4 linked regions of the Homo sapiens genome follow. The protein of the gene in region 3 purifies or fractionates together with the protein of the main gene of each other region. This does not show direct contact. Each region holds a gene or a part of one and is shown on either strand. Other genes may lie near its edges. The genes, in order: LANCL1, CTDSPL2, FGD4 and CCDC86.

Region 1 (6,156 bases), on a different chromosome or scaffold from region 3:
TTATTTGCTTCAGCAGAACTAATAATTTCCTTCTCATTTTTAGCCCAGCCTTCAAGTGAGCCAAGGGAAGTTACATAGTTTGGTCAAGCCCAGTGTAGACTACGTCTGCCAGCTGAAATTCCCTTCTGGCAATTACCCTCCATGTATAGGTGATAATCGAGATCTGCTTGTCCATTGGTGCCATGGCGCCCCTGGGGTAATCTACATGCTCATCCAGGCCTATAAGGTACTGTGTGTATTTTTGAAATAAATTTTTTTAAATAACCAAAAATTTATAATTTAAAATTAGTTTTATCCTAATCCATAAAGGAACAATAAATAAATCTCTTGTGGGACCTAAGATCACTTTACTAAATGAATTATAATTCATTCTCACCATCTATCTGTACCATAGCAGCCATTGTTTCATATCCTACTTTTAACAACACTTAGGTTGCAATGAGATATTGTTTATGATCCAGCATATTATCTAGCAATTCCACTCCTAGGTGTGTACTCGAAAGAACCAAAACCAAGCATTCATAACGGCATTATTTATAATTGCCACAGGTGAAAATAATCCAAGTATTCATCAACAGATGAATTGATAAAATGTCATATATACAATGGAACATATCACAATGCAATGGATTATTATTCTGCTATTAAAAGAATGACTTTCTGATACATATTACAACATGGATGAACCTTGAAAACATGCTAAGTGAAATAAATAGATATAAAAGGACAAATATTGTATGATTCCATTGTAGTGCATAAATAACACTAATAGAAAGCATGCCTTCACAGAACTGCAATCAACGCAGATTTTTAGTTGAGAAAAAAAAAGATATCTATGACCATTGGTGCCAAATCAACAAATTACAACTCTGCAGACTATCGCTGGGCGCTGGCATCTCATAAATAAGCTTTTAGTGTATCATATTCTACATTTCAGAGAATTAGATATGTTAATAATAGAAAAACTTTTTAAACTGCCTTATCCTACTTTTAAGAACACTTAGGTTGCAATGAGATATTAAAAATATCTACTCAGAATATTTCCTAAGTCTTTGATGAAGATATAGGAGGCAGTAAAAGATTGTAAAGGTCTATCTCTATTTTTCTGACTGCATATTTAATAAAGAACAGTTGTTCTTCTCCAGTGTGTAAAGAAACTTCCTAATAGTGAAGAGGGCATCAGAGTTACAAAGAAGATAGCATGTGTTCTTTGGAAAGTCACTCATGATAAGAGCAAGTTGCAAGTTAAATAATGCTGCTTCCTCAGTAACACCCACATAAACATACACACATGTGCAGAAAACTTAGACTGTACATGCCAAAGTCATGCACAGTTTTTTTTAAAGCCAAACTAGTCGATTTTAGTAATTGTCACTAGCAACATAACACATCCCTCTGTCACTAAATCCTTTACCCTTTCTTGCCAAGCCATCTCCCTCTTTCCTTCTTATCTATCAGGAAGGAATATCAATGGAACTTTCTTTTATATCCCGTATAATAAAATGTGTCCTTTGCCTCTGCAGGTATTCAGAGAGGAAAAGTATCTCTGTGATGCCTATCAGTGTGCTGATGTGATCTGGCAATATGGGTTGCTGAAGAAGGGATATGGGCTGTGCCACGGTTCTGCAGGGAATGCCTATGCCTTCCTGACACTCTACAACCTCACACAGGACATGAAGTACCTGTATAGGGCCTGTAAGGTAGGAGTCAGAACCACCAAATAGAAAGCAGCTCGGTGGCTCACACCTGTAAATCTCAGCACTTTGGGAGGCTGAGGCAGGCGGATCACCTGAGGTCAGGAGTTCGAGACCAGCCTGGCTAACATGGTCTACTAAAATGACAAAAAATTAGCCAGGTGTGGTGGCAGGCGCCTATAATCCCAGCTACTTTGGAGGCTGAGGCACAAGAATCACTTGAACCCGGGAGGCAGAGGTTGCAGTGAGCCAAGATCACACCATTGTACTCCAGCCTGGGTGACAAGAGTGAAACTCCATCTCAAAAAAAAAAAAAAAAAAAAAAAAAGCAGGTCTCCCAGGAGGTTGTAGAAAGAGTTCTAGTTCATCTGATTTAATTCATTTATCCCTAAAACCATAGGTCTTGGATAACAAATACAGTTATTTAAGGAAAACCTTGAAAAGCCTTTCAATTAAATTAGCATTCCTTTAAAGGGACATAATTCTACTCAACAGCATTAATGGGAGAAAAAAATAAAGATGTAGGGTGATTTTGTGCCTTTCTTCTTGAATAACCTTGTAGATACGTGACTCAGACAGCTCATTAAATTCCTCCCATGCTGTGTACTCTTTCAAACCATCCTTTTCTCTGCATTAATCTCCTTTCTCTGATGTGAAGGTAGTGTTTGATTTTTCAGAGTAATTTGTATAGACAACCTCTTAACTTTTGGGGTTGTCTCTGGAAGAAATCACTATACTAATTTAACTTGGTCTCATTTTCAGTTTGCTGAATGGTGCTTAGAGTATGGAGAACATGGATGCAGAACACCAGACACCCCTTTCTCTCTCTTTGAAGGTATTTTGTACACTTTATTTATTTGCCCTATAATATCAGCATCTACTTCTCTGCTTGGTAATTAATGTATTTAAGTTTTAGCAAAAAATTTTATAATTATTCTTAAACTACTTTTTTATTTCCTAATATGCTAAATCGATATTAAAAATCAATTAGCACATGTAATACCACAGTCCCAATACTGGTAGTCATCAGGTGACTCCCTTTTATGGAGCCAGGCACATGTTGGGCATTTTGCAGACGCCCTCATAAATCATTCAGCAAAAACATACAGGCACTACTACCTTCATGTCATAGCCGAGGAGACTGAGGCTCAGGAGCTTATGTTTGGTAAATGGCAGGGCTGTGACTTGAACTTGTCTGGCTCCATTCTTTCTCCAGTCTTCCACCGGGATATAAGGCTGAACACCTCACTAGTGATCTCTTCTAATGTTGAACTGCAGTGTATGTAAACGTAGATAGATTCACACTTCATTTAAATCATTGCCGTTAATATTGTAATGTTGTTAATGTTAAAAAATGGAGCCATCCTTCGTTTTTGCAGAGTTGTAACTGCTCTCGGGGGGTGTCAGTGAGGTGAGGAAAAAGCCATAGGATGCCGAAGGAGGAGGGCCAAGAGGACACCCCCACCCTCCAGTGCGGCCTTGATCCAGACCTTAGGGACGAGGCCATCACTGGTGGGCACCCTTTGTTGATGTTTGTGTGTTTGAATAGACTGAAATGCTGTGACTTTTTTTGTCAATAAAGATATGGGGGAAAAAGAACCATCCTATGAAATGGAGTCATTTGGTATAATAACTTTTGCCTCTTTCTCTTTCTTCAGGAATGGCTGGAACAATATATTTCCTGGCTGACCTGCTAGTCCCCACAAAAGCCAGGTTCCCTGCATTTGAACTCTGAAAGGATAGCATGCCACCTGCAACTCACTGCATGACCCTTTCTGTATATTCAAACCCAAGCTAAGTGCTTCCGTTGCTTTCCAAGGAAACAAAGAGTCAAACTGTGGACTTGATTTTGTTAGCTTTTTTCAGAATTTATCTTTCATTCAGTTCCCTTCCATTATCATTTACTTTTACTTAGAAGTATCCAAGGAAGTCTTTTAACTTTAATTTCCATTTCTTCCTAAAGGGAGAGTGAGTGATATGTACAGTGTTTTGAGATTGTATACATATATTCCAGAACTTGGAGGAAATCTTATTTAAGTTTATGAATATAACCATCTGTTACTGTTCTAAAAATGTTTAAAAGAAACTCAATACAGATAAAGATAAATATGTGACTATTATTGGGTATTACACTTCACTTCTCTTTAATATTTTTCCTCCAACTGGAGGGCAGACAATTTTCTGACTTGCTTTTCTCTAGGTGGTTCATTTTGAAAGGGGACAGAAATATAACTAAATGCTTCCAGGAGAAAAATTCCAAGAGTTACAATCTGGACTTGGTACCTAAATATCATTTTTTAAATTCTTGATGCCTATTTGGACTAGAGGTAAACATACTTTCAGATTGGCCTGTTTTTGTCGGTAAGGCATACAGCCTTCAGAAGCCAACATTTTTAATCAAAAACTTATAAAACATGATGATCATTGTGAAAATTCTGAGTTGAAGGTTAGTTTAAGATAAGCTAACAATAACAGTCTGTGTTTTCTCTAAAATAATCTGAGTTTTTTGGAACTCTTTATTTAAATATGTGTGTTTTTCAGTATTCAAATAAGATCAGGAAGCCAATTTTCTATGTATGAATATGCTTTAACCTAGGATTTCAGTCCACTCTGACTGACTTTCTAAACTTTAACTTGGGTTTTTACAGTGACTATGCATTAGTGCTGACTCTTTGGTATAAGCCATAAAATATTTTCCTTCCTATCAATTTATCTGAACTTTGGTCTTTTCACTAAATTGTACAGTATTCTACTTCTGTTTAAAAAGGGGAGATGAGAAAGGGAATACTATCTAACCAATAACTTGAACAAAAACACTAAACTAAGCATTTAATAGAAATGCTTTTTATTGAGGAGGTATTATCCAGAGTTCATGCTTAGAACAAATGCATCTTTGCGTATCCTAGACTTAACAATTCATCAGTTTCTGAGACCACAGAATCAGGTTTTCCGTAGTAGATAAAGACTCTCTGGTGCTTCAAATTCTGTTCAAGTGTTTTGACTCATCAGCTTCTACTCTTTCTATTACTGCCTTTGCCTGGCTTGTTTTGTCTCTTTGCAACTGATTTTGCAAAAAAAAATTGTAGCTTTAAAATAACAGGGTCTAAGTATTTTAAATGTGCCTATTTCACAGCTCTCTTGGTCACAAAAACATGCTATTTTTATTGGAACTTCAAACCAAATCCCCACTGAGTGTGTACTGGTTCCTGCAGGTAGCAGTCTCCTATTATCTCCTGTTTAGCACCAAAAGAGCTAATATTATTGGAAACTGACCTTTTAAAGGCCACTGGCAGTAGGATTTAAAAAGCAGCCCACTGCTCAGTTTCCAGGATCAGCTTCCTCCTTCTGTCACTTGTGTAAGTTGGCACTACCTTGTGCCTCTCAGATTGCTGAAGTGCTGCTGGTAAGCATGTGCATGCTCTGCCTTTCTTGTGAAAGTTTTCAATCAGCGATATCAGCACTTACAGTAAGAAGTAAAAGTAGTGCACAGCAAAGCTAATTTGCCTTTGCCTGGGGTGTTCAGCTTGAAAGAATAAAGCTCATTTGGTTTAGTTAAATGTCTTACTCTACTGTGCCTATGCTTTTAGCTGCGTTACTAAGCAAGGGAAAAATAACAGTTTCTCTGAGCCAGAGAAGACTTGATCACAGTTCTCCAAGCATCGTGATAGCAATGCTTAACCCCAGGAAGATTTCAAGGCAGGGAGAAGAACATTTCAAATAAGATTCTTGTTAACCCATTTATGCCTAGTGTTCCATTATTGGAATGCTAAGCTTGTGGGAGTCATTTACATCCTACTGCTCAAAGTCATTGCCAAGGTCTGATTTTTCACACAAAAAATTGCAACCCCCAGCATAAATGGGTTAGCTACTGTCATCAGTTAGCAAATTCATCCACACAAACACAATTAGAGTTTGGTTTTTTTTTAAGCTTTTCAAAACTTACTAAACTGGCACAATTTTATATGTATGCTATTTGTTGTATTTATGCTTAAGAGCAAAAAAGTTTTGATGGGATTTTAAATTCAGGCAAAGCCTACAACGCTGAGACAATCCCCTAACAACATGGTAGTAACTAAAGAAACTTTTATACTAGGCTTCTTAGTTTTAAAAGGAAGTGGCATCATTGTTTCAGTTCTAGTTTGTATTTTTCTCTCAGATATTTTTCTTCTTTAAAAATCTTTCCCAGAAGTTGGTTCCTAGAAAACTCAATACCATCATCTCTTATCTCTATACAGGGACTAGGTAATAAAACCTTCAAAGGTTGTCAAAGGTCATCAAGCAGTGTTCATTTATCCTGTCACATGTTTCTGTTTCTATAGTAATTTAGAAATTGCAAATAGTTAACTTTTCATCATGTAAAAAGTTAACATTATCCTATTTCCATAGATACCATGGACGGCGGTGTGGCCTGAGTTGTCAGTCTTTAATCCTGAGTCATGTGGCTCTCTTTTCATCTTTGATG
Region 2 (6,156 bases), on a different chromosome or scaffold from region 3:
CAGGAAGAAAAACCTATGCATATAATGTGCTCATTTAAGAAAAAATATGAAATACTGTTATTTTTTATCAACTACTCATGAAGATGTATAAGAAAAGAAATTTTCTTCACCTGTAAGGGGTGGGATATCACGATTAACTGTTTCTTCTGCTTCTTCTAAACCATTGTTTAGTGATGGTCTCACTTGAACTGCTTGATTTGAGTAAGCTGCTCCATTAGTTGATGTAGTAGTACTGGTAGTGATCTCATCCACCTGTTCCATATCAAGTTGTTTTACTATTTCTTCAGCTTCCACAGCCTGTCCTGGAGAATCTGATCCTGACGTTCCTGAAATCATGATTCAGTGTACTATCATCATTTAAAAATGCACCTATTTAGAAAAACTAAATGCAGCATCACCGTACAATATATTTATTTAGACTGATCATTCCTGCAGGAACAAAGCTGAGTATATTGCTTTTAGAGAATCTTTGCTAGCTATTTCAAACAATGAAGAATAAAGACTTACAGGCTAGAGTAACATTTGTGAGCAAAGTTTCTGCATCCTAGTCATGTGTGCAATTGTAATTTTTCAACCAGAGGTATCAAAAAATTAGCTGTTCCCCTAATCATGAGAACCTTTTAATTAAAAGATATAAAAATAATTTCTCAGCAAAACTCCATCTCAATAACAAAGACTGGGCCAGGTGTGGTGACTCATGCCTGTAATCCCAGCACTTTGGGAGGCTGAGGCAAGCAGATTGCTTGAGCTCAGGAGTTCAAAACCAGCCTGGGCAACATGGCTGTCTCTACAAAGAATATAAAAACTAGCTGGGTGTGGTGGTGCACATCTGTGATCCCAGCTACTCATGAGGCTGAAGTGGGAGGATCGCTTGGGCCCAGAAGGAGGTCAAGGCTGCAGTGAACGGTGATCGTACTATTGCACTCCAGCCTGGGTGACAGAGCAAGACCCTGTCTCAATTAAAAAAGAAAAAATAATAATCCCAGGTCTTTCCATTTCCTTCTGGAATCTTCCAAATGTCATTTTAAACAAAAATAACAAAAAAAATTAACCTCCAATATTCTCAACTTCCTTACAGAACATTCCTTCTCCCTTGTTGCTTTAAGTTTAACCTCTTTCCTAAAAGGTTTTTCTGATACCCTTCCCTCAATGCTCTTTATTCTCCCATACCAATATACTAATTGAATCAGAATTCATTTATCTCCATTGCTACTATCCAATCGCTGGTTTTCCACTAATGTGCAAAAAAAGTCTGCTCTTTTGAGACTGATGTCACATGGCTATATAATTCTTCACTTATCCTCACTGCTGGCACCTACCATCTACTGCCAGAATCCTCTCAATCGCAAAGAAGTTTAATACATAGCTACTAGTTTACTGCTCTATTTAACACAGTATTTTTTCTAGTTGTTATTACAGATGATGTCAATGACTCATCCAATGACTAATCCTCAAAGTTCTTGCCCTCTTCAGCTCCAACCACCTTCACTCATACTGCTCTATATCAGTTACTACCATAGCTATAACCTGGACATTAACACTGAGAAACTTCACCTCTGAAGCCTAAAATTCTAATACTGTATTAACCACTTAGCACAACCTCCTAACCCTCAAATTATATATCTCATACTCCCATTATATGTGATCTTCAAACTTGATAAAGGCCAGTCTGTTTAATTCCAAACACGTCCCTCAAACACTTCTTCTCAACCCTCCTCATCTAGTTAGACTTCGTGGTGTATCACTTAAATACACTGTCAAACTGGCAGCCTCAGTATCCTTGATCCCTCATTCCTCCACTGTCATCCATCAAGAAATCCCTCTTGAATCAACGTAACCAACAGGCTTCTCAGACCCTAGTTGCAGGCTATGGAACAAAAAATACAATTACAAAGACTGGTCATAATCCAAATAAAACAGAGACACAGAGACAGGGAAAGGCAGGGGGAGGGGAGGAGGTAGGTGGGGGGGAGGGGGGAAGAGACAGATGTGGGAGTGGAGAGAGAGGTTGTGTGTGTATGGGGTGGGGAGAGAGAGACAGAGACACACACAAAGAAAATATCAATGTAAACCTTCACTATTCTTCCCAAGTCCCTTCCACTAGAACTATCATTAATGACACCATCTCTTCCTTCCAAGAAAACTCTATCAAACTTCAACTCCTTCTTCCCCAGACATCTATTTCTGTACACACCTTCAGAGATATACACACCTTCAGAGATTCTTTACTTCAGCATGAGGGGAAAATATTACTACTGGGGTTTGTTTTTTTTGTTTTGTTTTGTTTTTTGAGATGGAGTTTCACTCTTGTTGCCCAGGCTGGAGTGCAATGGTGCGATCTCAGCTCACTGCAACCTCGGCCTCCCAGGTTCAAGCAATTCTCCTGCCTCAGCCTCTTGAGTAGCTGGGATTACAGGTGGGTGTGCGCCACCATGCCCAGCTAAATTTTTTTGTATTTTTAGTAGAGATAGGTTTCTCCATGTTGGTCAGGCTGGTCTTGAACTCCTGACCTCAAGTGATCCGCCCATCTCGGCCTCCCAAAGTGCTCGGATTACAGGCGTTGAGCCACCGCGCCCAGCCTGAATATTTTTATTTAAATATTTCATGGCATCTCAAACTCAGCATGGTCCAAATTACACTCAATTATCTATCTCCCAGGAACTTTATTTTCCTTGAATCTTCTACTCTTGTGCCATCTTCATCTCTATTCTCTTTCACCTCCAATCTGCACCAAAAATGTGTCTATTTTCTATCCTCTGATCCTTCCTGTCTTCTCTAATACAATTAAGGTCTCATCAAGTCTCACACAAACGACTACAAGTCTACTAATTGTTCTACCTGCCTATGGCCTCTTCAGAATCTAGTCTACACACTACTGCCCAAGTGATCTTTATAAAACATAGATCTGATCGTATTATTCACCAGTTTAAAACCTTTCAGGCCGCTCTGCCTATGGAGGAGGAGCCATTCTTTATTCCTTTTTCTTTTTTTTTTTTTTTTGAGACGGAGTCTTGCTCTGTCACCCAGGCTGGAGTGCAGTGGCATGATCTCAGCTCACTGCAGCCTCCGCCTCCTGGGTTCAAGTGATTCTCCTGCCTTGAGTAGCTGGGATTACAGGCACATGCCACCACATCCAGCTAACTTTTGTATTTTTCTTTAGTAGAGACATGGTTTCACCATGTTAGTCAGGCTGGTCTTGAACTCCTGACCTCATGATCCACCTGCCTCGGCCTCCTAAAGTGCTGTGATTACAGGTATAAGCCACGGTGCCCGGCCTATTCCTTTACTTTCTTAATAAAATTGCTTTCACCTTGGGGAAAAAAACAAAACAAAACAAACTTTCAATTATCCCATACTTGAATAAAGTTCATCATCTTACTATGTTAGCTCTATTATATGACTTCTTCATAGCTCTCCTACCTTATCCCTTCTCAAATGCAATGTTCCATCAATTACAAACTACAAACAGCTCTCAAATACACTATGCTGTTTTCTGCTGCAAGGCCTCTACGCATGCTGCTCCTTCTACCTGGAATGGCTTTTGCCACTTTTCCAGATTCGGCTTTTCTTTCAAGCCTTTTGTGAGCCACTACCCCTGCCACCCAGAAGACAGGACCATTCCATTCTTTTTATTTTTTTTTACGTGGACCCCCTACTTGGCTGTCCAAGCTTGAGTGCAGTGGTACAATCACAGCACACTGCAGCCTCAAACTCCTGGGTTCAAACTGCTGGATTGAAGCATTCCTCCCACCTCAGCCTCTGGAGTAGCTAGGACTACAGGCGTGCACTACCACGCCCAAATAATTTTTACATTTTTTTGTAGAGACAGGGTCTCACTATGTTGCCCAGGCTAGTCTCAAACTCCTGCCCTTGAGCAATTCTCCTGTCTTGGCTTCCCGAAGAGTTCAGATTACCGGCATCAGCCACCACACCCAGCTCCCAAGGAGCTGTATATTATTAATGAGGTGGAAAACATACACGAGACATTGACAAAATATGCTAATAAAATAAAAAAGATCTTTTTAAAAACTATGTATTTTTTTGCTGGGCACAGTTGCTCACATCTGTAATTCCAGCACTTTGGGAATCCGAGGTGGGCGGATCACTTGAAGGTCAAGAGTTTGAGACCAGCCTGGTCAACATGGTGAAACCCCGTCTCAACCAAAAATACAAAAAATATTAGCCGGGCATGGTGGCAGGTACCTACAGTCCCACCTACTTGTAAGGCTGAGGCAGGAGTATTGCTTGAACCTGGGAGGCAGAGGCTGCAGTGAGCGGGGAGATCGCGTCACTGCACTCCAGCCTGGGCAACAAAGAGAGACTTCGTCTCAAGAAAAAAAAAAAAAAAAAACCCAAACTATGCATTTTTTTAAAAAAAATCCAAATCACAGTTAACAGTTTATACTTACCATTTTTATTTGCTGGTGAAAAAAAGTTGAAGACAGGTGAAAATATGGTCCCCAACAAAGTAGTCCTTGGAGGACTGCCAGAGGAAGGATTATCTTCTAATTTTCCATTTTGTTTTACATGTTGATTTGTCATTTCATAACTACCAGCTTCTAAAAAAGAAACAAGAAAAAAGTCATGATCTAGAAAACACTGAATTTCAGAAGTGTGTTATAAATCATTCATTATAGAAGTAACTCTTTTTCCCTCAAAATACTTCACGAAAGCTAATTAATGTTAATGTTCAGGAAAGCTTATTAAAGAAACATTGAGGTAAATTACTCGTAAGTCAAATGCTCTTTATGTATCAATGTGTTTATAATGCTAATATTTACTGAGTTTTTTCAAAGTAGATTTACACCTATAGACTGAAAGGCTTCAAATCAACACAGTATAACACAAAATGAAGAAAATTCTTTGTAAACAAGCAAACTAGTTCCCACCAACTAAAACACAAATAATTTTATTTTTGTTTACATTCTAGGACGGTTCTAATTCATAAAACCTTCCCTCACATCTGCTTCTATCTAATGAATGACAGCGAAATGAATAGAGGCAACATAACTCTACTGAAGCAAAAGGCTATATATAGCAGTGTCAAAAATTACTTATGGACACTGAGACGCCATCTCAGAGTGGCTAGGGAAAATAATTTTAAGTTTCCTGTAAATCAAAATGTTCCACAGATCTTTTAAGAATATAAAAGTAAAATCAATCAACTGTTCTAATTAATCATCCTTTGATTCTCCTCAACTTTTGATGTCTACAACACTTATTTCCTTCTTTGCTATGGTTCTTTTAACTTGTTTCTTTCTCTATTTTGTCCCCCTTGTCTTGTCTCAGTCTTTTTCTCCCTCCTGGTTTGTTTTTTCTAACAATAAAGATATATTGCTGCACTGGGCAGAGACAAGGGGAGAAATTGCTGCTGTGTTTAAGATAGCATTCGTTAAAACAGTACTCCATACTCTAAAGCAGGGGTCCCTAACCCCATACCCACTGGTACCAGTCCGCAGCCTATTAGGAACTGGGCCGCAGAGCAGGAGGTGAACAAGCATTAACGCCTGAGCTCTGCCTCTACTACCTTATCTGCAGATAAGCTGCTGCATTAGATTCTTTTAGGAACACGAACCCTACTGTGAACTTTACATGCAAGGGATCTAGGTTGTGCGATCCTTATGAGAATCTAACTAATGTCTGATGATCTGAGATGGAACAGTTTCATCCTGAAACCATTCCCATCACTGTCAGTGGAAAAACTGTCTTCCACAAAACTGGTCCTTGCTGCCAAGAGGTTGGGGACTGTTGCTCTAAAGTGTTATTCTTTATAGCTGTCTCTGCTTTTCCTTAATGCTATTCTCCTTCTTTTTGACTTTGAGGAGTTTCTCTGCTATGCAACAAGGTATTGACAGAGTTTATCAACAGCGGCAGTATTGACATTTCAGTCTAATTCTTTGTTTTGAAGAGCTGTCCTGTGTATTGTAGGATGTTTAACATCTCTGACATCCACCTAGTAGACACTAGTAGCCACCCCTCCACAAGTTGTGACAACCAAAAAGGTCTCTAGATATTGACAAATGTCCCTTGGAGGAAAAAATCACCCCTAGTTGAAACCTACTGGACTAAGTGATGCAAGTCCCCTCTGAGCTCTTAAGTAGAATAATCTAGGAAGAAATTTGGTATATATTTCAATTAAATTAAGTCACAATTATT
Region 3 (6,156 bases):
AATTGCCAGTGATGGTAATCTGATAACTACATTAAATATTATTGAAATGTCTCCCAAGTTAATTTGACTAATGTTCTGGAAAAAATTCAGACCCCCCCACCCCAAGCCTGAGAACTATAACGCAGCTTATCTGAAATGAGTTTTACATCTAGAGATATTAACAATATAAGGGACAGGTTATATAATAAGGCCTTTGTGGCAGTAGGTTCAAGGTAGCCTGGAAAGTCTATAGAAGAATAGGCTCAGGATCAAAATGCTATGTATCTAAAATCATAGACATACTTGGTTTATTAAGAATCTCTAAAGAGGCTGGGTGCAGTGGCTCATGCCTGTAATCCCAGCACTTTGGGAAGTTGAGGCAGTTGGATCACGAGGTCAAGAGATCAAGACCATCCTGGCCAAATGGTGAAACCCCATCTCAGCTAAAAATACAAAAATTAGCTGGGTGTGGTGGCACACACCTGTAGTCCGAGCTACTTGGGAGGCTGAGGCAGGAGAATCGCTTGAACCCGGGAGGCGGAGATTGCAGTGAGCCAAGATTGCGCCACTGCACTCCAGCCTGGTGACAGAGCTAGACTCTGTCTCAAAAAAAAAAGAATCTCTAAAGAATCAGTAAGTATTTATTGAGCATTTACATTGTGTAAGCGTACAAGTATACCTGTACACTTACAAGTGTACAAAGGTCACTTCTGTTCATTGATAAAGGGTTACAAACTTCAAGGTCCATTTGAGGCTAAGTGTAGCCCCACACACTAAAATCATTCTTCCAGGGTATAGATGTTACTCGTATGGCCTACCAAACTGGGGCTTTCTCAGGCAGTAAGGATGGAAAGACATGCTTCATTGGACATCAGGAACAGAGCCTCAAGACTTAATAGCGACAACTGATGAGACTGGCACAATATAATGAGTCGGGGAACTTGGTTTTAGGGTCAGCTTCAGGCCGTATCTCTGAAAAATCCCTAGCTAGTATTTTAGAGAACCTTATACTGAGGAAAAATTAATGAATTACTTATTAGGTCAACTCATATAATGAAATAAATATATAGTATGAAGTCCATACATAGGAGACAAGTATGTACATGGACACATTAACTTAAATGCATATTCGAGACTGATTTTGTACCAACTAGTATGTTATATGCCCTAGAACAGTGATCAACACACTTTCCTGTAAAGAGTCAGAGAGAAAATATTTTAGTCTTTGCAGACCAAGAGGCCAAACCAAGGATATTACATACATATTTGTAAAAAGAGAGAAAACAAATTTCCACAATTTTTTTTTACAAAATTAAAATTATATTTATTTAGGCTTTTTAATAATATGGATCAGCTGGGCGCAGTGGCTCATGCCTGTAATCCCAGCACTTTGGGAGGCTGAGGCGGGCGGATCACAAGGTCAGGAGTTCGAGACCAGCCTGGTCAACATGGTGAAACCCCGTCTTTACTAAAAGTACAAAAATTAGCCCGCGTAGTGGTGTGCCCCTGTAATCCCAGCTACTCGGGAGGCTGAGGCAGGAGAATCACTTGAACCTGGGAGATGGAGGTTGCAGTGAGCTGAGATCGTGCCATTGTACTCCAGCCTGGGTGACAGGGCGAGACTCTGTCTCTAATAATAATAATAATAATAATAATAATAATAAGGATCTACTAATAAGAATGGAATTCTTTGGGGGAGGATAACCATTCACTTAATTGGAATCTGAAGTTAGCGTTCCCTATCATCAAATTAATTGTAAGTGGTCGCGTAAAAAAACACCCTGGCTCATGGGCCATACAAAAACAACTGGTAGGCTGGATTTGGCTTGTGAGTTATCGTCTGCTAACCAGTGCTGCTTTAAAAATTGTCTGTGGCCAGGTGCGGTGTGGCTCACGCCTATAATCCTAGCACCAAGGCTGAGGTGGGTGGATCACCCGAGGACAGGAGTTCGAGACCAGCCTGACGAACATGGTGAAACCCCATTCTACTAAAAATACAAAAATTAGCCGGGCCTGGTGGCGTGTGCCTGTAATCCCAGCTACTTGGGAGGCTGAGGCAGGATAATCGCTTGAACCTGGGCGGCGGAGGTGTCAGTGAGCCAAGATTGAACCATTGCACTCCAGCCTGGGCAACAAGAGCTAAACTCCGTCTCAAAAAAAAAAAAAAATTGTCTATGCTGAAGCATCAGTTTTTTTTTCCTGAACTATCACAGATCAGTGTTTTTGTAAAATACACTGTAATGCACTTGGTTATCATCACAAATTCAAATTGTTATAAAAGTTTAATACTTACTCCTACTTTGTGTGCTTACCAGAAACTGGTAACATAAACCATTTGCAGACCTGGAGACCAACATGAATAACACTGAGTAGCACTACCTGAAGGGTTTTGGAGACAGAAAATAGAAGCAAACCAGTTAGTTTCCATAAGGCATATAATAAAAACTACCATTTAGTTAAATGGTTTTGTTCCTTTTTTCAGTATTTTTTTTCTTTTTTTTTTTTTTTTAGACAGAGTCTTGCTCTGTCACCCAGGCTGGAGTGCAGTGGTGCGATCTCAGCTCACTGCAATCTCTGCCTCCCCGGTCCAAGCAATTCTTATGTCTCAGCCTCCTGAGTAGCTGGGATTACAAGCATGTGCCACCACACCTGGCTAATTTTTTTCTTCTTTTTTTTTTTTTTTTTTTTAGTAGAGGCAGGGTTTCACTGTGTTGGCCAGGCTTGTCTCAAACTCCTGGCCTCAAGTGATCTACCTGCCTCTGCCTCCCAAAGTGCGGGGATTACACGTGTGAGCCACCGCACCCAGCCTTTTAGCCAACAATTTTTATATTAGGAGGCAAAATAGAAAAATTAAATGGCTCTATGTATTAGTCTGTACTCACACTGCTATAAAGACATACCCAAGACTGGGTTATTTATAAATAAAGGAGGCTTGGCCGGGCATGGTGGCTCACGCCTGTAATCCCAGCACTTTGGGAGGCCAAGGCAGGCAGATCACGAGGTCAGGAGATCGAGACCATCCTGGCTAACACAGTTAAACCCCATCTCTACTAAAAGTACAAAAAATTAGCCAAGCGTGGTGGTGAGTGCCTGTAGTCCCAGTTACTCAGGAGGCTGAGGCAGGAGAATGGTGAGAACCTGGGAGGTGGAGCTTGCAGTGAGCTGAGATCGTGCCATTGCACTCCAGCCTGGGTGACAGAGCAAGACTCCATCTCTATGAATAAATAAATAAATAAATAAATAATAAATAAGGCTTAATTGACTCACAGTTCCGCATGGCTGGGGAGGCCTCAGAAAACGTACAATCATGGCAGAAGGGGAAGAGGCACATCTTACATGGTGGCAAGCGAGAGTGAGCAAGTGTATGAAGGAAGAACTGTCAGACACTTACAAAACCATCAGATCTCATGAGAACTCACGATCACGAGAACAGCATGGGGGACACTGCCCCCATGATCCAGTTACCTCCTATCAGGTCTCTCCCTCGACACATGGGGATCGTGGGGATTACAATTGAAGATGAGATTTGGGTGGGGACACAAGGCCTAACCATATCACTCTACAAAAATTGATTGCACTGAAAAAATCTTTAATTAGGTGTACTCAAACAAAGATTGCTGGTTACTATTTGCCTTTTTGCTTTTATATTCTTTCTTAATTGAAGTAGGTATCGCATTGTCGTTAAAAGTTCAGGCTCTGTTCTGGGCACAGTGACTCACCCCTGTAATCCCAGCACTTTGGGAGGCCAAGGTGGGAGGATTGCTTGAGGCCAGGAGTTCAAGACCAGTGTGGGCAATGTAGTGAGACCCTGTTTCTACAAAAAATTTAAAAATTCTCTCCCAGCTACTTGAGAGGCTGAGGCAGAGGATCGAAGTTCAGACTCTGGATTCAGACTCTCTGGGTTCAAATCCCAGCATGCCAATGTGTGATCTTGGGAAAGCTATTTAAACTCTGAGCCTCAGAAAAAATGAAAATACTACCTTCTCAGTGTTGGTGTGAGGATTAAATGAAATAAGACATGTATTGAGCTAAGGAAAGTGCCTACATAGTAAGCAATCAATAAACACTTAACTCTTTAAATTCAAGGTCTAGTTACGTAAAGAGCTAAAATTGGCTTAAATATTTTCCATGTTAAAATGTTTAAACAATAATTGCAAATGAATCTTTTTTGGATAGTCCAGGGAAACATTTTGTATAAACACATTGTACTTTGTGAATATTTCTCTATCTGATTTGTTGTGTGTTCATTCTGTCTTTCCATTATATTTTTCTAGATTGAATCAGCAGAAGTATCTGGAAACAGTGTGGTGTGCAGCTTTCTTCAGTATATGGAGAAGTCAAAACCTTGGCAGAAAGCTTGGTGTGTGATCCCCAAGCAAGACCCTCTTGTGCTGTACATGTATGGTGCCCCCCAGGTATCTAAACCACATCTGTCTGAAGGGACAGATGCCCTTGGGGGCAAGGGGAAGCGAGTGGACAGCGGACTCAAAATCTGTAGAACAAGAGTTCAGGCAGTTTCACTGTTTCATTAAAATTGAAAAATAATGAGTAAAGTTCAAGTTTGTTGTTTAAGCTGATTGATTCATTTTATAGCCTATATTTTCTTCAGTTTGTGGATCATCTGTCCCCTTTCTTGTCTCATTCAATGGGTTTGAGAAAAGATGAGTTGAATTAGGAATGAGCATGAGGAGAAGGGGAAGCAAACGGGAGAAACAAGCCTTTTTAATGATAGGAAACATTAAGAAAAGACTTTTTAATTTTGTTTTTTGTTTGTTTGTTTGTTGTGTTGTTGTTTTCTTTGTGACAGAGTTTTGCTCATGTCACCCAGGCTATAGTGCAATGGTGCAATCTTGGCTCACTGCAACCTCCACCTCCTGGGTTCAAGTGATTCATCTGCCTCAGCCTCCCGAGTAGCTGGGATTACATGTACCCACCACCACACCTGGCTAATTTTTATATTTTTAGTAGAGACAGGGTTTCACCATGTTGATCAGGCTGGTCTTGAACTCCTGACCTCAGGTGATCCGCCCACCTCGGCCTCCCAAAGTGCTGGTAATACAGGCGTGAGCCACTGCGCCCAGCCAATTTTGTTTTTTATTTTATTTTTTCTTTTTGCTCAATGGATAGATATCTGAAAAAGGAGTTTGAGAGGAAGGGGAACTTAAAATCAGTCTTGCATTATCATTCAGTAGCAATTTTTTTGAGAACCCCACGTATATGGATCTGAGATAAATCTATGGGAACAATGATATGCAGGTTTAGCTTTTAACAAGAGCAGCACCAGGTCCTATGATTGTGTTGTGCTTGAAGAATCAAATGTACAACACTTAAACCAGTTATGCATTTACTCTGAAATATAAAAATTTTACATATACCTGTTGTATTTCAGTCTATAAATTAAGGGCTGGTAAAATTATTTTATTTTGAAAATAGACTGAAAATGACAGGCTATATAGTTTACTCTCCTTTATTGCTTTTCCTATAAGCTTTCTATGTCCATAAATAAGTTGATGGAATAAGTGAATCACCAGATAAAACTGCCTTTAGTAATGAGATTCTCATTACTGTTTGCTGGTTTAATACAGTATGATGGCGATTTTTCTTCCCCTTTTCACTGAATGAAGAGTTGAAAGGCTCTTTTCACAGAGAGGAGGGTGTAGTGTCTCTGAGTCCTAGCTGATTTGGGTGTCAGCTCTCATTCATTCAGCTAACATTATCAGTGGCCTCACGTACAGGCTCTGTACTAAGCAATGGGATTGCCCTCTGTGCCCATGGAGAACTCACCGTTTAAGTCTGTTTGGGACAGTGGTAGGAAGAGAGGTTTAGTAGGAGCAAGGGACACACTTAACAAGCGAATACATCACCTGCTTTTAATGTCTGATGTCTTTTCTTTAGGACGTCAGAGCCCAGGCCACCATTCCACTTCTGGGCTATGTGGTGGATGAAATGCCAAGGAGCGCAGACCTGCCACACAGTTTCAAACTGACCCAGTCTAAGTCCGTGCACAGCTTTGCTGCAGACAGTGAGGAACTGAAGCAGAAGTGGCTGAAAGTCATCCTTTTAGCTGTCACAGGTGAGACACCAGGTGGTCCAAATGAGCATCCAGCCACCTTGGATGATCATCCTGAACCTAAGAAAAAATCAGAATGCTGAACTCCTCCAGGACCAGCCATGGTG
Region 4 (5,891 bases), on a different chromosome or scaffold from region 3:
GCTGTCTGCCTTCTCTGAGGAGTAGCATTTATGGAGCACCTATTACGTGTGTGTGTCGATTAAATCTCCCACCACCCTTTGGGTTAGGAATGATTCTCATCTCCACTGGACAGGATGCTGAGACTTAGAGAGGCTACCTTGCTCCAGGTCACCCAGGTTGGACTTGGAACCCAGGCCTGAGTTTCCTCAATACCCAGGTAGAACCAATGGTCTGGAACTGCCCTGCCTCAGTACCTTAGCCGCCAGCCACATGTGGCTATGTACATTTAAATTAATTAAAATTAAATAAAATTTAAGATTCAGTTTCTCTATCAACACCAACCACATTTCTAGCGCTCAGCAGCCACCCATGACTAGTGGCTACCTTATTGGACAGTGTCAATGTGGAATGTTTCCACCATCACAGAACGTTCTGTTTGACAGCCCTGCTCTACACAGATGCAGCACTGTGTCTTGTGGTTCTGTGTGTCTCTAGGCTCCCAACACCTTGTCCCTTCAGGGTTCTCGTACCCCAGCTTGGGAAGCCCAGCTTTACAGTTATGGGGGAAGTCCATGTGGCACCCCATTCTTAGTGCTTAGGAGGCCAGGCCTTCAGTGGCAAGGCCTTGGGAAGGGGAGAAGGAAATCAGGGAGCTGGGGCCAGAAGTCGGCAGGGCCAAGGGACACCAAAATGGGCCTTGAATCTTTAAAAGAGAAAGACCTAATTTCAGCATGTGGAGGCCACCGAGAGACTTCTTTGCATTTTGTTTTTACTTTTTTTGAATGGAAATTTTCAAGCATACAAAGAAAGAGCAAAGCTCTCAAGTCCCCATTATCAGCATCAACACAGCTCAGCATTTTACTAGTGTAGCTTCATCTTTGATACTTGGCTTTTTTTTCTTTTTTTCTTTTTTTTTGTTTTGAGACGGAGTTTCATTCTTGTTGCCCAGGCCAGAGTGCAATGGAGCAATCTCGGCTCACCGCAACCTCCGCCTCCTGGGTTCAAGCGATTCTCCTGCCTCAGCCTCCCAAGTAGCTGGGATTACAGGTGTGTGCCACCACACCCAGCTAATTTTGTATTTTTAGTAGAGACAGGGTTTCTCCATGTTGGTCAAGCTGGTCTCGAACTCCCGACCTTAGGTGATCGGCCCACCTCAGCCTCCCAAAGTGCTGGGATTACAGGCGTGAGCCACTGCGCCCGGCTGATCTTTGGCATTTTTTTTTCCCTGAAATATTTTAAAGTACATCCTAGACATATCATCCCATTCATAAATCCTTGTAGTATGCATTTTTACAGAGATGAGCTCAGTTCTCCTGTAACTCTAAAATCATCGTTGCTCTTTTCAGATTTCCCTGAGAGCCCTGATGCCCACTTCATCTCCAACTGGGGGAAGAGATTCTTTTTCTTTTTTCTTTTTTCTTTTTTTTTTTTGAGACAGAGTCTTGCTCTGTCACCCAGGCTGGAGTGCAGTGGCGCGATCTCGGCTCACTGCAACCTCCACCTCCCAGGTTCAAGCAATTGTTGTACCTCAGCCTCCCAAGTAGCTGGGACTATAGGCATACACCATCACACCCAGCTAATTTTTGTATTTTTAGTAGAAACTTTAGTAGGTTTTAGTAGGCTTAGTAGGTTTTGCCATGTTTGCCCGGCTGGTCTCCAACTCCTGGACTCACGTGGTCTGCCCACCTTGGCCTCCCAAAGTGCTGGGATTACAAGCATGACCACTGCATCCGGTCTTGGCGGGGAAGATCCTGAATCATTACCCAGAACTTTAACCACTCACACTGTTCTGAAATGGAATGGGCCACCTCCCTAGGGGGTGAGCGCCCCGCCTCCAGAGGCATTCACACCCGGGCCAAATGCACTTGGCGGAAGCAACAGAACTTTACAGCAGGGGCCGCGTAGCCTGGACTCTGCAGTCGCTGACAGGATTCAAGTCCTGACTGCCACAAGGTATCTTTAGGCAGCTATTTAACCTCTCCGCGCCTTGGCCTGCTCCTCTGTAAGTGGAGAGGATAGGAGTACCCACCTCAGAGGCATGTAGCCAAGGCTTGAGAAATGGCAGCCAGCACGATCAGGGTTCCCTCCCGCCCCAAGTTTCTGCAGCCCTGGAAGGCCGCCTGTCAGGCCAGCAAGGAGGTGGTTCTGCCTGGGCTCTGGGGAAGAAGGTCCAGAGCCTCCGGCCGAGAGGAGACAGGGCATGGGTGGCGCTTGCCCCACAGACCCTGTATGCACCCACTCTCCCCCTTTCAGATTCTCCCAGATGCTTCAGGACAAGCCCCTGCGCACATCGTGGCAGCGGAAGATGAAGGAACGACAGGAGAGGAAGCTGGCCAAGGACTTTGCCCGTCACCTGGAGGAGGAGAAGGAGAGGCGCCGCCAGGTGAGGGGCCAGCCAGGCTGAGGCTGGGGCTCAGAGGACTAAGCTAGTGTCTACTGGTACAGACCTGAGGCGAGGGCCTCCACGGGTGCCTGGGGGAGGCCGACTTGGTTAAAAAACGTTCTTGAATCTGAAGGCCGGAGGGAGGAAGGGCACCTGGCCAGAAGCAGAAGTGCAATCTGGGACTACAGGGCAGGGAGGCCCAGGGGACCATACAGTTTAGCCTGGGCTGCTGAAAGAGCCTCAGGGACAGGGACGGAGGGGGAGGACCAGAAGCGGGCCTTGGGGAGAAGCCCGGGAGGAAGTCCTGGGTGGTAGGGCAGTCAGTGAGATGGGGTCGAGGGCCCTTTGCTGGGACGTACTCAGTTGGGAAGGGCTTGCAGATTTGAACTCCATGTCCCCGGTATGGCTGCTGTCATTCTCCAAGAAGCAGCCCACACACCAGCAACGTGGATGGCCCCCGCACCTTTCCTCCACTTCTGTCCCCTGTCACCCATCCCAGAGCCAGGAAGCCCCTGTAAAGGGTCACAGCCTCACCCACATCTGCCAGGGACTTTTAAGCGGGGGGAAGAGGGCACTCAGCAGGCAGCATGCAGAGAAAGCGGAGTGGCATTGGTCAGCTCCTGCCCCCCAGGGCAGGGCAGTCAGTGGGAGATTCCTCCTCCACTCCTCTAATGACCCAGGCGTGTAGGAGGAGTGCCGAACGGGATTCAGACAACTCATCCATAGTCCGTGGTCCCAGGCTGGCCACTGAGAAAAGGGGTGGGCCAGTCACTCAGTCATCTGTCCCCTGCTCTAAGTCACCCCAGCTCAGCTTACAGCTGACATCTGAGGAACAGTGTGTCCGCCACCATATGCTGAGGCCTTATCTCTTTTCCTGTGTGGCCCTGGCTCCCTCTTGGGCAAGACAGAGCTGCCGTCTCACTTCTCACCGTCCACTGCGGAGGTGCTCCTGCCCAGCCCCCAGCCCGGGCCTGCCCTGACCACAGGAGGCCAAGGCTCACTTCTCCTTCCTCCCCAGGGGCCTGGGCCACCCCTGCTACCCCAAGTCACCAAAGCCAGCAGAGACTCCTAACCATGCAGCAGCCTTGGAGCTGACGTCCCCACCCTGGCCTTGCTGAGGGACACAGTCAGCATGGCTAGAGAGCACTGGGCTTCCCCTCCCAAGACAGACTCCATCTAGAGTCTCAGTGTGCCCAAGGAGCTAGGGGCTGCTCCAAGTCCTGCACGTGCATTCCCTCATTGATTTCCCAAAACTATCTTACGAGGTAGATACTGTGGTCACTGTCACTTTAAAGATGAAGAAGCTGAGGCACAGACTTAGCTAAGGTCTCCTGTTTAGGAAATAACAGGATCCAGATTGAAACCCAGCCCAGATAGCTCCAGAGCCTTTTCTGTGCAGTGCAGCCCCTGCCCAGCCCCACACCTGTGAAAATCTCAGGGACCCAGCCCTCACCCCTAGCCTGGCATTCTGCAGCAGCAGGACTCCAGGGGAAGAGGGGGAGACTGTCGGAGAGGGTGGGAATGGGGGAAGGGCCAGCACCCCTTTCTCCCTTGGCAGTTGATGAGGGTGGCATGAGGGGTCACTGTCTGCATGTGCGTGAATCTCCAGGTGGGCACCCCCAGTGTCTCAGCCCCTGTCCTCAGTTGCCTGTCCCATACCCACCTCTCAACATGCTATCAGGAGCTTCCACCACAGCAGGCCCCTGGCACTAGACCGTGGCACAGGATTGCTAGCCCTCCACCCACACATCACCAACCTGGAGCCTGGCAGAGAGGGCCTTTCCCCTTCCTCCTGGGAATTCTGCCCGCTCGCACTCTTCTGGGGCCTGAGAGACCAGGGCTGCCTCTGCTCCCCGACTCAAATCCCCTTCTCCCACATGTTCCAGGAGAAGAAACAGCGCCGGGCTGAGAACCTGAAACGCCGCCTGGAGAATGAGCGGAAGGCAGAGGTCGTCCAAGTGGTGAGTGTCTCGTTTTCCCCCTCTGCCCTTCTGCCCCACTTGGGGGTGCAAACCAGGGCCTCGACCCCTGCCTCATGTACCCCCACTCTCATGCTACGATCTCAGGCCCCTGTGGGGCGGCCTTCCTCTCCCCTGGGAATTTGGACCGAGGCTGCAGCTGCACTAATGTCCTCCCCTCATACCACCCCCAGATCCGAAACCCCGCCAAGCTCAAGCGGGCAAAGAAGAAGCAGCTGCGCTCCATTGAGAAGCGGGACACCCTGGCCCTGCTGCAGAAGCAGCCGCCCCAGCAGCCGGCAGCCAAGATCTGAGCTCAGGACGGCCCGAGGCCTTCCATGGCCAACAACCATGTCAGACACAGCACCTCAGGCCGCTGCTCAGATGCCTCTGCTGGAGCTGGCACTCCAAACCCATGGCTCCAGAACAGGGACCCCCACCCCGACCGGGGCTCCTCGGCCTTTGAAGGCTTCCAGGCAGGTCTGTGTGGGACAGAAGCCCAGAGGGGGCCTGGGACCTGGCAGAGATGGGGGCGGGAAGAGATTCAGCTCCCATCCCTCCTTCCTCTCCTTCTCCAAGTGCCTTCAAACCAAGAACTGTACATTCTTCTGGTTCCTCAGTGAGCTGGTGACTGGCAGGTGACTCCCTCAGCAGTGTATGCCCTTTCTCAGCATCCTAGGTCCATCCCAGGCCTGGAGGCTGACAGTTGGGAATCCAGCTTCCCCCACACCTTCCCAAAGGCTGCTCTGAGCACCTCCACACCCCACTGCCTCTGTCCCCAGCAGACTGAATCCGGTTCCTCTCCACTTTTCAATACTGAAAGATTAAAATGGGGAGGTTGCAGGGAGCAGAGCTTTTCCCTAGCACCCACTTTCCCAAACCAGTCTCTGCAGAAGCCCCAGAGAATCTAACTCATGCCTGTCCAGTCTACAGCAAAAATATTTATTGAGTGCCTGTTGCATACAGGCACAATCCTAGGCACCGGCAAATACAGACAATAGACCAAAGTCCCTGCCCTCGAGGAGCTTTCATTCTGATGGAGAGAAAACATAATAAACAAGCAAAATGCACCACGTGTCCAATGGGGGAAGTGCTATGAGTAAAGGGGGAAGGGATGGGAGGGAGCAGGGGCGAGGTGTCAACACAGGGTGGCTCTGCAGCTAGCTGGGCACCTCACTGTTCCCTTTGCTCAGCACCTGCTGTGGGCCAGGCCTTCAGTGACCCTGGCCTTTGGTGGCAGAAAAAACACAGGACCAAGATCTCAAGAGTTTCTCATCTGCTTCTTCCACTGACATTTCATCCACCAAGCAAAATTCATTGACACCAACTTTTCGGTCCCTGGGCTGCAGAGCTCAAACACAGCAGTCTCTGACCCCAAGTCCACGGCAGGTGGAGGAATGAGACGGGGTGCAGTGGAAGTGATAGGTCAGAGGTGCAAGTTACCCCTCCCATCCGCAAAAGGGAAATGGTAGCTGCCCAGCCCCATGTGGCCTGGAGGCGGGGCTGCACAGATCTTGGGATTACCAGTGCCCAGAGGGATCCCACAGAACACCAGGCCGACAGGGAGGCT

The links.
Region 1: the proteins of FGD4 (region 3) and LANCL1 purify together in Homo sapiens (affinity purification with mass spectrometry; one large-scale study listed by BioGRID and IntAct). This does not show direct contact.
Region 2: the proteins of FGD4 (region 3) and CTDSPL2 purify together in Homo sapiens (affinity purification with mass spectrometry, with the first as the bait; one large-scale study listed by BioGRID). This does not show direct contact.
Region 4: the proteins of FGD4 (region 3) and CCDC86 purify together in Homo sapiens (affinity purification with mass spectrometry, with the first as the bait; one large-scale study listed by BioGRID). This does not show direct contact.

The regions. Positions count from the first base shown.
Region 1 is NC_000002.12:210,431,760-210,437,915, reverse strand, and holds part of LANCL1 (glutathione S-transferase LANCL1), read left to right. Parts: intron 1-43; coding exon 44-226; intron 227-1,523; coding exon 1,524-1,700; intron 1,701-2,456; coding exon 2,457-2,529; intron 2,530-3,352; coding exon 3,353-3,429; 3' UTR 3,430-6,156. UniProt on the Homo sapiens protein: Functions as a glutathione transferase. Catalyzes conjugation of the glutathione (GSH) to artificial substrates 1-chloro-2,4-dinitrobenzene (CDNB) and p-nitrophenyl acetate.
Region 2 is NC_000015.10:44,484,954-44,491,109, reverse strand, and holds part of CTDSPL2 (CTD small phosphatase-like protein 2), read right to left. Parts: intron 4,560-6,156; coding exon 4,410-4,559; intron 327-4,409; coding exon 111-326; intron 1-110. UniProt on the Homo sapiens protein: Probable phosphatase.
Region 3 is NC_000012.12:32,634,402-32,640,557, forward strand, and holds part of FGD4 (FYVE, RhoGEF and PH domain-containing protein 4), read left to right. Parts: intron 1-4,253; coding exon 4,254-4,394; coding exon of another isoform or gene 4,395-4,511; exon of another isoform or gene 4,512-4,532; intron 4,533-5,874; coding exon 5,875-6,132; 3' UTR 6,133-6,156. UniProt on the Homo sapiens protein: Activates CDC42, a member of the Ras-like family of Rho- and Rac proteins, by exchanging bound GDP for free GTP. Plays a role in regulating the actin cytoskeleton and cell shape. Activates MAPK8.
Region 4 is NC_000011.10:60,845,691-60,851,581, forward strand, and holds the end of CCDC86 (coiled-coil domain-containing protein 86), read left to right. Parts: intron 1-2,233; coding exon 2,234-2,363; intron 2,364-4,249; coding exon 4,250-4,324; intron 4,325-4,515; coding exon 4,516-4,635; 3' UTR 4,636-5,391; downstream 5,392-5,891.